Linked DNA regions of Homo sapiens. The protein of the gene in region 2 purifies or fractionates together with the protein of the main gene of each other region. This does not show direct contact. Each region holds a gene or a part of one and is shown on either strand. Other genes may lie near its edges.

The links.
Region 1: the proteins of PCDHB7 (region 2) and ST7L purify together in Homo sapiens (affinity purification with mass spectrometry; 2 studies listed by BioGRID and IntAct, with this or other methods). This does not show direct contact.
Region 3: the proteins of PCDHB7 (region 2) and KIAA0319L purify together in Homo sapiens (affinity purification with mass spectrometry; 2 studies listed by BioGRID and IntAct, with this or other methods). This does not show direct contact.

What each region holds. Positions count from the first base shown.
Region 1 is NC_000001.11:112,584,475-112,588,230, reverse strand, and holds part of ST7L (suppressor of tumorigenicity 7 protein-like), read left to right. Parts: intron 1-3,756.
Region 2 is NC_000005.10:141,170,369-141,174,124, reverse strand, and holds the start of PCDHB7 (protocadherin beta-7 precursor), read right to left. Parts: upstream 1,482-3,756; 5' UTR 1,290-1,481; coding exon 1-1,289. UniProt on the Homo sapiens protein: Potential calcium-dependent cell-adhesion protein. May be involved in the establishment and maintenance of specific neuronal connections in the brain.
Region 3 is NC_000001.11:35,508,716-35,512,471, forward strand, and holds part of KIAA0319L (dyslexia-associated protein KIAA0319-like protein), read right to left. Parts: intron 1-3,756.

The DNA.
Region 1 (3,756 bases), on a different chromosome or scaffold from region 2:
AGATGGCATGATCTTATTTGTAGAAAGTCTTAATCCACAAAGAAACTATTAGAGCTAATGAAAGTTTACAAAATTGTGAGAAACAAAATCAACATATGAAAATCAGTTGTATGTCTATATCCTAGCAATGAACAATCTGAAAAGGAAATTAAGAAAACAATTCCATTTACAAAAGCATCAGAAAGATTTAAATACTTAGGAATAAATTTAATCAAGGAGGTGCAAGACTTGGATGCTGAAAACTATAAAGCATAAGTTAAATAAATAAATCAAAAGACATCCCATGTTCATGGATTGGGAGACATTATTGTTAGAATGTCAGTACTCCCTAAATTGATCTACGGATTCAGTGCAATCCCTATAAAAATTTTAATTATCATTTCTGCAGAAATGGACAAGGCGATCCTATAATTCATACAGAACTGCAAGAGACCCTGAATACCAAAACAATCTTGAAATAGAAGCACAAAATTAGAAGACTCACACTACACAATTTAAAAACTTACCGCAAAGCTACAGTAGTTAAATTACAAGGATAGACACCTAGATCAATGGATTCAAATTGAGATTCCAGAAATAAACCCATATTATCTATGGTCAGTTGATGGTTTTGTTTTGTTTTGTTCTGAGACAGAGTTTCACTCTTTTTGCCCAGGCTGGAGTGCAATGGCACGATCTCGGCTCACTGCAACCTCCACCTCCTGGGTTCAAGTGATTCTTCTGCCTCAGCCTCCCAAGTAGCTGGGAATACAGGCACGTGCCACCATACCCGGCTAATTTTGTATTTTTAGAGTAGAGACAAGGTTTCACCATGTTGGCCAGGCTGGTCTTGAACTCCTGACATCAGGTGATCCACCCACCTCAGCCTCCCAAAGTGCTGAGATTACAGGTGTGAGCCACCACGCCTGGCCATGATTTTTGACAAGGGCGTCAAAACCATTCAGTGGAGGAAAGAATAGTCTTTTCAACAATGATGGTGGAAGAACTGAATAGCCACATACATAAAAGCATAAAGGTGGTCCCTTACCTCATACCATATATCCCAATTAATTTAAAAATCAATCAAGGACCTAAATGGAAGAGTTAAAACTACAGAACTCTTAGAAGAAAGCATAGGGACAAATCATCATCACCTTGAATTTAGCAGTGGTCTCATAAATTATAACACCAAAAGTACAAGCAGCAAAAGAAAAATCAGGTAAATGGACTTTATCAAAGTTAAAATATTTTATGCATCAGAGGACATTGTCAAGAGGCAGAAATAGATTTGGGATTGCCAGGGATTGAGGAGGCAAGGGAGATGGGGAGTGACTACTTAATAGGTATGAAGTTTCTTGTGGGGATGATGAAAATGTCCTGGAATTACATTGTGGCGATGGTTGCACAACTCTGTGAATATATTAAAAATTATTGAATTGTATACTTCAAAATGCTTTAAACTGTGAACCTTGTTATTTGAATTTTACCTCAATGTAAAAAACCAACATTCTTCAAAGTAAGATTAATTAGGTATTCACATAATGAATTTCCTGAATTAGTATCCATATAAAATACTTTTGAACAAATCCAAGAAAACTTTAAGGGGGAAAAAATCTTTTCACCATATATCCATACAGTCATTAAAAGTATATACATTCAAAATATAAGCATATAATTATGTTTATATTTTGATTTATACCCATCTAGGTCTTTTAAAAACTGTTTTTATTATGGTTATTTTAAAATATTTCAGTCGGTTTTTGGAATGGCAGTCAGGAAGCCTAGTGTTTTTGATTTTTGTTTTTGTTTAGAGACAGGGTCTTGCTCTGTTGCCCAGGCTGGAGTGCAGTGGTAGGATGATAGCTTCATTGTAACCTCAAACTCCTGGCCTTAAGCAATCCTCTTGCCTCAGCCTCCAAAGTAACTAGGACTACAGGTGCACACAACCACACCCAGCTAATTTTTAAATCTTTATTATTATTGTTTTATAGAGAGAGGGTCTCGTTGTGTTGCCCAGGCTAGTCTCGAACTACTGGCCTCAAGTGATCCTCCTGCCTTGGCCTCCCAAACTGCTGGGATTATAGCCATGAGCCACTGTGCCTGGGCAGGAAGGCCAGTGTTTAAAGCAGCAGTGTATCTAATGCTTCACAGGGATCTAGTGTAATGTAATGGAGAAATCTTTGTTGATTAGTGAAATTGTTATGTATTATAGGGTCTTCTTATTTGAAGGATGATGAAATGGTATGATTTGCATTTTCTATAACTGAAGAACGTTTTTGTCCCCACTTAACGATAGCTACCTGCCATCACTTTTGTTTAATGCTTGGTCTTGTACGTTTATCAATAATTTCTCTCCTCTTGCTGAGATAAGCACTAATTATTAGAAATATAATGCAAGCCACATATGTAACTTTAAATTTTCTAGTAGCCACATTTAAAAAGTAAAAAGAAATAGGTGAAATTAATCTGAATAATGTTTTATTTAGCTATATTCAAAATATTAATTTTTTTTTTTTTTTGAGACGGAGTCTCACTCTGTCACCCAGGCTGGAGTGCAGTGGTGCAATCTTGGCTCACTGCAAGCTCCGTCTCCCAGGTTCATGCCATTCTCCTGCCTCAGCCTCTCAAGTAGCTAGGACTACAGGCACCCGCCACTGCGCCCAGCTAATTTTTTGTATTTTTTTTAGTAGAGACAGGGTTTCACCGTGGTCTCGATCTCCTGACCTCGTGATCCGCCCGCCTCGGCCTCCCAAAGTGCTGGGATTACAGGCATGAGCCACCGCGCCCGGCCCAAAATATTAAACTATTTTAACATATAGTCAGTACTTTTCTAAAATCTGTTAATGAAGAACTTTACATTCTTCTAAGTCTTCAAAATTCGTTGTGCATTTTTACACTTGCATCACATCTCAATTCAGACGCATCACATTTCAAGTGCTCAATAACCACATGTGGCTAATGCCTAGAATACTGGACAGTGCCGTCTTAGATAATCACAACTAGGATATTGTCTGTAGAAGAGATGGATTTGTTATTTCTGGGAATGGAATAACAACATTTTGTTTCTCTTTGTGGCCCCAAAACAAGCATTAGTTTATTAGCCAGGTGTTGACTTAAAAGATACAAAGAAAAGCCTCTGTGTTTTAGTGGGGTGAAGAAAAGAAAACTTGGCATAAGCATAGTTTTGAGGAATGAGAATAGGAGTGTAGGAGGAAGGACCTGAATTCAGAACAAGGGAAGTTATACTGCATAATATTGTGGATAAGTCCATGTGTGGATGGGACAGCATGCAGAGGGGAGTACTCAGATTTGGGGAAAATGTCTAGTCCTGGACTATGTTTCTGAGTCAGATGTTAAAAGTGCCTAGTTGGCCAAGGGACTATCTTCCCAATCTTCACCCTCCCCATACCTGCCCCATGAAATGGATGTCATAAATTATATAGCGACTAAAAGCAGGTATGATCAACCGGGCATGGTGGCTCACGCCTGTAATCCCAGCACTTTGGAAAGCTGAGGCAGGTGGATCACCTGAGATCAGGAGTTCTAGACCAGCCTAGCCAACATGTTGAAACCCCATCTCTACTAAAAATACAAAAATTAGCCGGGCGTGGTGCTGCATGCCTGTAATCCCAGCTACTCGGGAGGCTGAGGCAGGAGAATTGCTTGAACCCAGGAGGCCCAGGTTTCAGTGAGCCAAGATTGGGCCATTGCACTCCAGCCTGGGTGACAAAAGCAAAATTCCATCTCAAAAAAAAAAGCAGGTATGACCAGTAGAGG
Region 2 (3,756 bases):
CTGGGTGTCCCCAAGTCGGTGACGGTGATGGTGATGTTGTACTCAGTGTTCCTCTCTCGATCCAAAGGTTTCTCTGTTACCAGAGTATAGAAGTTTTCGACAGATGGCTTCAGGATGAAGGGGACATCGTCCTGGATGGAGCACACTGTCTTTCCATTGTTCCCGGAATCTCTGTCTCTAATCCTAAAAACAGCCACGACTGTCTCGGGTGAGTTTTCTGCAATTGGGCTAGTAAGTGAAGACAGGAGCAGCTCGGGTCGATTATCGTTTATATCTGTTACATCAACCACTACAGTGCATTTTCCAGAAAGCCCGCCGCCGTCTTTGGCCTGAATAGTTAATGTGTAAGTTTGAATTGCCTCATAGTCCAATTGCGCTTTAAGATGAAGACTGCCAGATGTTGGATTGATTTGAAACGTTTTGAGAATTCTTTCAGTGGCGTAAGAAAATGCATAGGCTATTTCCCCATTACTTCCGGTATCTAAATCTCTGGCTGACACGGAGACAACCATGGAACCAACGGGGCTATTTTCGGGCACCTGCACCTTGTAGAGCGACCGCACAAAATCAGGGGCGTTGTCATTTACGTCTAGAACCAGAATGCGCACGAGGGCGGTCCCTGATCTTGGAGGAGAGCCGCCGTCTAAAGCGGTGAGGGTTAAACTGAACTCTGGTATCTCTTCCCGATCCAGCACTTGATTCAGCACCAATTCGGGATAGATATTCCCCTCCCCGCTATCATGGACATTAATATGGAAATAGGCATTGGGGCTGATGGTGTAGTTACTCAGGCTGTTGGTTCCAACATCTGAATCCTGTGCACTCTCTAGGAGAAATGCCGCCCCTGGAGTGGTACTTTCTAATATTTTCAAGGAAATCTCTCTGTCTAGAAATACTGGAGCGTGATCATTGATGTCTCTGACCCATAGTTCAGCACGGAAAATCTGAAAAGGTTTTTCCAATAACAACTGGAAAGGCAGCACACAGGGCTCTCTGGGGCCACACAGTTCCTCTCGGTCCAATTTCTCATTTAGAAGTAGATCACCAGTAAGCGAACTGAGCAGTAAAATTTGCATGTTCTGGTCTGAAACAATTCTAGTTCCCCGGGCTCTCAGTTCCCCTACCCCTAACCCTAGGTCTTTTGCCAAGTTGGTAAGAAAGGTGCCTCTCTCGGTTTCCTCCGCCACAAAATACCGAAGCGGTTCGGCGCCAGCCCAAGACATTCCCAGAAATACACAAAGAAATAAGACTTGCCTTTTCTGCACAGCACGCTCCACTCTGGCCTCCATTCTTCTTTGGATCAGTCTTTCAAAATGACTTTCACTCAGCCTCCAGCGGCTCTCACAAATGGCAGCAGCGGAATCCTTTGAAATGAGCTGAATAATAGCAATGTTTGTGGGGAAGGATCCTCATTTTACCCCAATTCCTATTACCACTGTTTCCTTTCCTATGCTTTTCTCTTCAGATTGCCTCTTTGCTCTGGAATCTGTAACATCCTTTCTTTGTGAAATTATTTTTCTCTCTCTCTTTTTAGCCAGCAGCGCCACCTTGCGTTTTGTGGATGTTATTCCCGTTATCAAGACTAGAACAAAAAGATGGCGGATTGAAGGAATTCTGCAACAAGAATGATTTGTCCCCGGTATCTTTGCTGTTTCATTCCATCTTTATCCTCAAATGGTCACAGTAATGCTAGTAAGTAATAGCTGATGTCGTTTTCCCCTGTGATAATCTGGATTCGTAGAAGAATTAATTTATAGTCTTCTTAAATCTAGGAGCATGAAACTAAACTCTGACTCCCCACCGAAATCCTAAGAAAATCTCCTATTTTAAAAATGGATAGTAAAAATATATATGAGAAAATGAAACCTCCTCCTTGAAGTCAACAAATATTGGTTGGGGACATTTTATTTATTTGTAAAGTATTTAACAATAATAATGTGAATATGGCAGAATAATTGACCCTTTTCCCAATTTCTTGTGAATTAAACAATTATTCCACTTTCCAGGTCTTAACTCTTTACCTGTGATATTTCTTGGAACACTTTATGCCTCCCCCAAACCCAACCTTCATCCTTCACCTGATTTAAGTATTACATAAGAAATTATTGTTCCTCTATAATTTCAGTGACTAGAATCTCCAATGTCCAATGAATACTCTTAAAATTAGTAGTAGCAAGTTGGTCAATCTTGCATTTGTGGAAGTGCTTCTAGCATTTCATCTTCAACTATGATGGTTGATCTCAATTTGGGGTAAATATTCCTTTTTTGAATCAATAAAGTTTTCTTTTTATTCTTTCATATTTTGAAGTGATTTTTGATAGCTGTTGAAATAATACATTTATTCTTTAGTTTCTAAATTACTGAGTTATTGATATAAATGACATTTAACCATAATGTATTATTGTTTTAGTGCACAGATAGATATGATGTGTCAACATGGTTTTAGGATTTTTCTAGTTAATGTTGTTTACCTAGTGCGTGTTTGCCTTTTATGGCCTTGGTATTAAACTATTATACTGGCATCATAGAATGTGTTAGGGAGCTTTTTATCTATTTTATACAATAGTTTTAATAATTATATTATTATATGTTTCTACATGCTTAATTCCAGCTTGTCTTTTAAACTGGTTGGGTTTGGTGACTTCACTTGCAGTAGATCAGTGACTACCATTTACATTTTACCTTTGGTTATTAATCTGTTCAGGTTTTGTATTTTTAAGTAACTTGCATTTTATTTTGAAAATCATTTTATCTAGTTTGCAAATTTCTTGGAATTGTTTTCATTGCGTTATTTACCTTTAATTGTATCCCTATTTTTATTAGTGATGTTTAGCATTTTAACTCCTTTTTATTCTTGGTGAGACTTGCAAGAGCTCTACTTTACTGATATTTTGAAATGCATTTTTTTCAAAATAATATATGACCTTGGTCCAAAATTAAATAGCACTAAGAGGCTTGTTCTGCCCTTTTCCTCCTCACTTTTCTTAGTTCCCCTTCTAAGAGGTAGCCATTTTAAAACTCTTTTAGTTATCTCTTCAGTCACTAATCTGTTTTCTGATATATTTTGATTAATTAATTTTAGAAATTATCAATTGACTGTTTATTATGTTAGATTACATTTTAGGTATTTTAGATTTTCTTTTACTTACCATATATTGGGAACATTATTGTGTATTAATTATGTTTTCTTTTTCAATTTTTTTGTGATTTTAATAATTATCTTGCCTTTTCATTTACTTGATTTTTTTTATCCCTATCACTTATTCATCCCACAGATACAATTGCCTGTCAGTGCAATTTTCCCCATAGTCATTTCCATTCCTCCTGAGACTTCAATTTTTCTTTAAATTGGGTGGTTGCTTTCTGTGCCTACTGCACAGCTATCATTCTGGATTTTTTTCTTTGCTGTCATTCTTGGAATTCTTTGCCTTTTATTCTGGATGTGTTTGCTATTTCTGGGATTTTATAACTTGCCCTTTTTCAGTTTACTCTATGGCATTACTAGAACACATCCTCCAATAGGTTCATATGATTGAAAAGATGATACAATGTTAAGAGGATTGCTAATGATATCCTTCAAAATCTCTGTCTCTTGAGTCAAACAGCTCCTTACTGGACTAGTTGTTCATTATGCTCAGTTGTCATCCTTGGATCATCCTTCAGCATCACCTGGAGATTCATTTCACTTCTGTCCTGTTTTGGATCTTCTAGTTTCTGTTTCTTCTGTCTTCTCCTGTCTTGAATTAGGTTCTCATT
Region 3 (3,756 bases), on a different chromosome or scaffold from region 2:
ACAGCTAACTGAGTGAACAGACTTTGTTGAAATCAAATTGTTTTATCAGTAACTACTATTTTTACCTTTATATCAATTTTCCTTCATTCTTCTCATAACTATTTTCTCATACTTAAGAGGTCAACACAGATGAAAATTATCTGTGCTTTTTTCTAAGCTGATATATTATTTAATTTTTAAAAATGCAATACAACTTCCACTTCTGCTCTTGAAGAAGGAATTGCTATGGGGCTTGCCTTCCCACCATGAATAACTAGAAAACTAGACAAAATATATAAAGCAACTGTTTTTAGACACTGGACAACAGGCAGTGCAGGACTATGATCCCTGAAAGGAAACAAACCAGGTGAGCTCTATGAATCCCTTGGCTTTCTGCTGGAGGCATGCTCCAGACTGTGGCACAGGCAAGAAGAAGGCAAGCATAACAGGGCAGTTGCTAAATTGAGGAGACGGAGTTCAGGGTGACTGGTAGTTAGAATGTTTAAACAAAGTACCAGAAAGGAGGAAGCTACACAGAGAAAGAGCTTCAGAAATCTGAACAGTAGTCACCTTCAGTTTTGGCTGAACACTGATTTACTAAGGTATAGGTTGAAACTGCATGAGGGAAATTAGAAAATATTTTGAACAGAATGAAAATAACACAATATATAAAAATGTGTGGGATACAGTTAAAGCAATGTCTAGAGGGACATTCGTAATTTTAAATGCTTATTTCAGAGAAGAAAAGTCTATAAAATCAATGATTTAGAGAGACACATGGAGAAAACGACATGTGATGACAGAGGCAGAGATTGGAGCAATACGGCTGCAAGCCAAGGAAAGCCAGGATTGACAGCAACCACTAGAAGCTAGGGGGAGGCAAGGAAGGAATTCCACCTCCAGTCTCCAAAGACATCAACCCTTCTAACACCTTGATTTTGGATTTCTAGCCTCCATAACTATTAGCATACACAGGGTTCTCTGCTCTTATCTGGGAGACAGTTCAGGAGACAGATGGCCCAAATCCAGGGATCACTAACATCTGGGGATGTGGCTGTGGCCTGCACCCAGGTCGAATGGAGATAACCTAATAATACACTTAACAGGACCTGTACAGCCATGTGATGCTGGAAAACTATGGGAATCTTGTGCCTGTGGGTTTCTCTCTTTCAAACCAAAACTAATCACCCAACTGCAGCAAGGAGCCTGGATGGAGGCGTCAGAACTGCGTCAGGTACCTCTGCAGTCCAGGAGTACTGGTTTGAAACAAAGATCTTAACCCTAAAGCAAAATACTCTGAAGTTCTGCAAGAGCAAACAAAAAGTGTCATGATAGAAAGAGGCCTGGATTGAGAGGGAGGAGGTTCCACAGAGATGCGGTGCTATAAATGAAAAGAATGTGGGAAAGTACAATTCGAATACAACTCTTCCTCTTTTAGCCACCAGAGCAATCATACTAGTGAGAAACCCCATAAATATAAAGAATGTGGAATAGTCTTCATGAGCAGACTATCCTACTATCACCCCTTTCAAATCATCATAAGCTCACACAGGCGAGCAACTTTACAGATGTACTGAATGTGGCAAATTCCTCAAGCACTCAACATTTATTAATCATCAGAGAACTTATTCTAGAGAGAAATACCAATAAACGTGAAAAAGCTTTCAGAAAAAAACAGCCCTTTCTTTTTTTTTTTTTTTTTGAGAAGGAGTCTCACTCTGTCACTGCAGAGCAAGGCGTGAGCCACCACGCCTGGTCAAAACTGTCCTTTCAAGTCATCAGAGAATTCATACAGTCAGGAACTCTACAAACACGACTGTGGGAAACTGTTCAGAAGGCAGTCGTTACTCATCAGGAGAGAAAACACAGTGGAGATAAGCCTTTTAAAAACATTTATTTATTTATTTATTTATTTATTTATTTATTTATTTAGAGACAGGTTCCCACTCTATTGCCCAGGCTGGAGAGCAGTGGCACATCATGACTCGATGCAGCCTTGACCTTCGGGCCCAAGCAATCCTCCTGACTCAGCCTCCCAAGATGCTAGGACTACAGGTGAGCATCACTGTGTCTGGCTAATTTTTTAACTTTTTGTCAGAGATGGGGTCTCCCTATGTTGCCCAGGCTGCTCTTGAACTCCTGGGTTCAAGCAATCCCCTGACCTTCGCTTCCCAAAGTGTTGGGATTACAGGTGTGAGCCACTGCGCCTGGCTGAAAAAAAAAAGCCTTTTAAATGTAAGGAATGTGGGAAAGCTTTCAGAGATAACTCAACTTTGTTGGAGCATCAGAAAAACCATCTTAGTGAAAAAGTACATTGGTGTAATAAATACAGAAAAGCCTTTAGTAAGAGCTTGACTCTTATTAGTCATCAAAGATTTCATACAGGAGAGAAACTCTATCACCATATTAAATGTGAAATCTTTTTCAGGTATAGAAAGATTTGCTGGGCAAATCTCCTTTGCTGGGCATCAGAAAACTCATAGTGGAAATAAACCCTATCAGGGCAATGACTGTAGGAAAGCCTTTACAAAGAGCTCAACTCTTATTGGACATCAAGGAATTCATACTGGGGGGAAAAAAAAACAAAAAACCAAAAACCTTTCACTATAAGAAATGTGGGAAAGCCTTCGGGTACAGCCAAGGCCTTGCTGAAAATCAGAAAATCCATATCTTATGAATGTAATGAATGTGGGAAGCTTTTCCCCAAAGTTCAGCCCTTAAACAACATAAGAAAATTTATAACAAAGTCATCAAGCCAGGCATGGTGGCTCATGCCTATAATCCCAGCACTTTGGGAAGATGAGGTGGGAGGACCACTTGAGCCCATGAGTTCAAGACCAGACTGGGCAACATAGTGAGACCCCATCTCTACAAAAGATAAAAATTACTAAAAAATAACATTTTTAAAAAGAATGGGTCATCAAATGTAGTGTGGTAAACATGCAAAAGTAGTTTATTTCTTCTGACCATCAAAGAGGAGATATTTAATAAGTGCACCGCTATCTAGAAGCCTTCTCATTTGTAAGGATGTTCACTGTAGTATGGTTTGTATTAGTGAAATAGCTGAAGAACCTAAATGTCTGTCAGTATGGAAATAGTTGCTGCAGAATACTATGTACCATTTGAAAGAAATGGCATAGAATTTTATATACAGCCATAGAAATATCCCCCCTCATAACTTAAGTGGAAAAAGCAAGTTGCAGAAAATCTATATATTATGTTCTTATTTATATTTTTAACAATGAAGCTATTTTTGTTTGTCCACATATATTACCTGGATTCAAAAAGATCTAAGCCAGGCGTGGTGGCTCATGCCTGTAATCCCAGCACTTTGGGAGGATGAGGCAGATGGATCACTTGAGGTCAGGAGTTCGAGACCAGCCTGGCCAACATGGCAAAACCCCGTCACTACTAAAAATACAAAAATTAGCCAGGTGTGGTGGCACACATCTGTAATCCCAGTTACTCAGAAGGCTGAGGCAGAAGGATTGCTGGAAATGGGAGGGGGAGTTGCAGTGAGCCAAGAGCATGCCACTGTACTCCAGCCTGGACAACAGAGCAAGACTCTGTCTCAAAAAAAATAAATAAATAAAATAAAATAAAAAGATCTGGAAAAATAAAAGCCAAACTTTGACCAAAAAAAAAAAAAATCAATGATCTTTGCTTCCATCATAAAATCTGGGGAAAAAAAAGAGTAAATTAAACCCCAAAGTAAGTAAAGGAAAGAAATGATAAAGAGAAGAGTAATCGAACAAAAAACAATAGAGAAAAATCAAG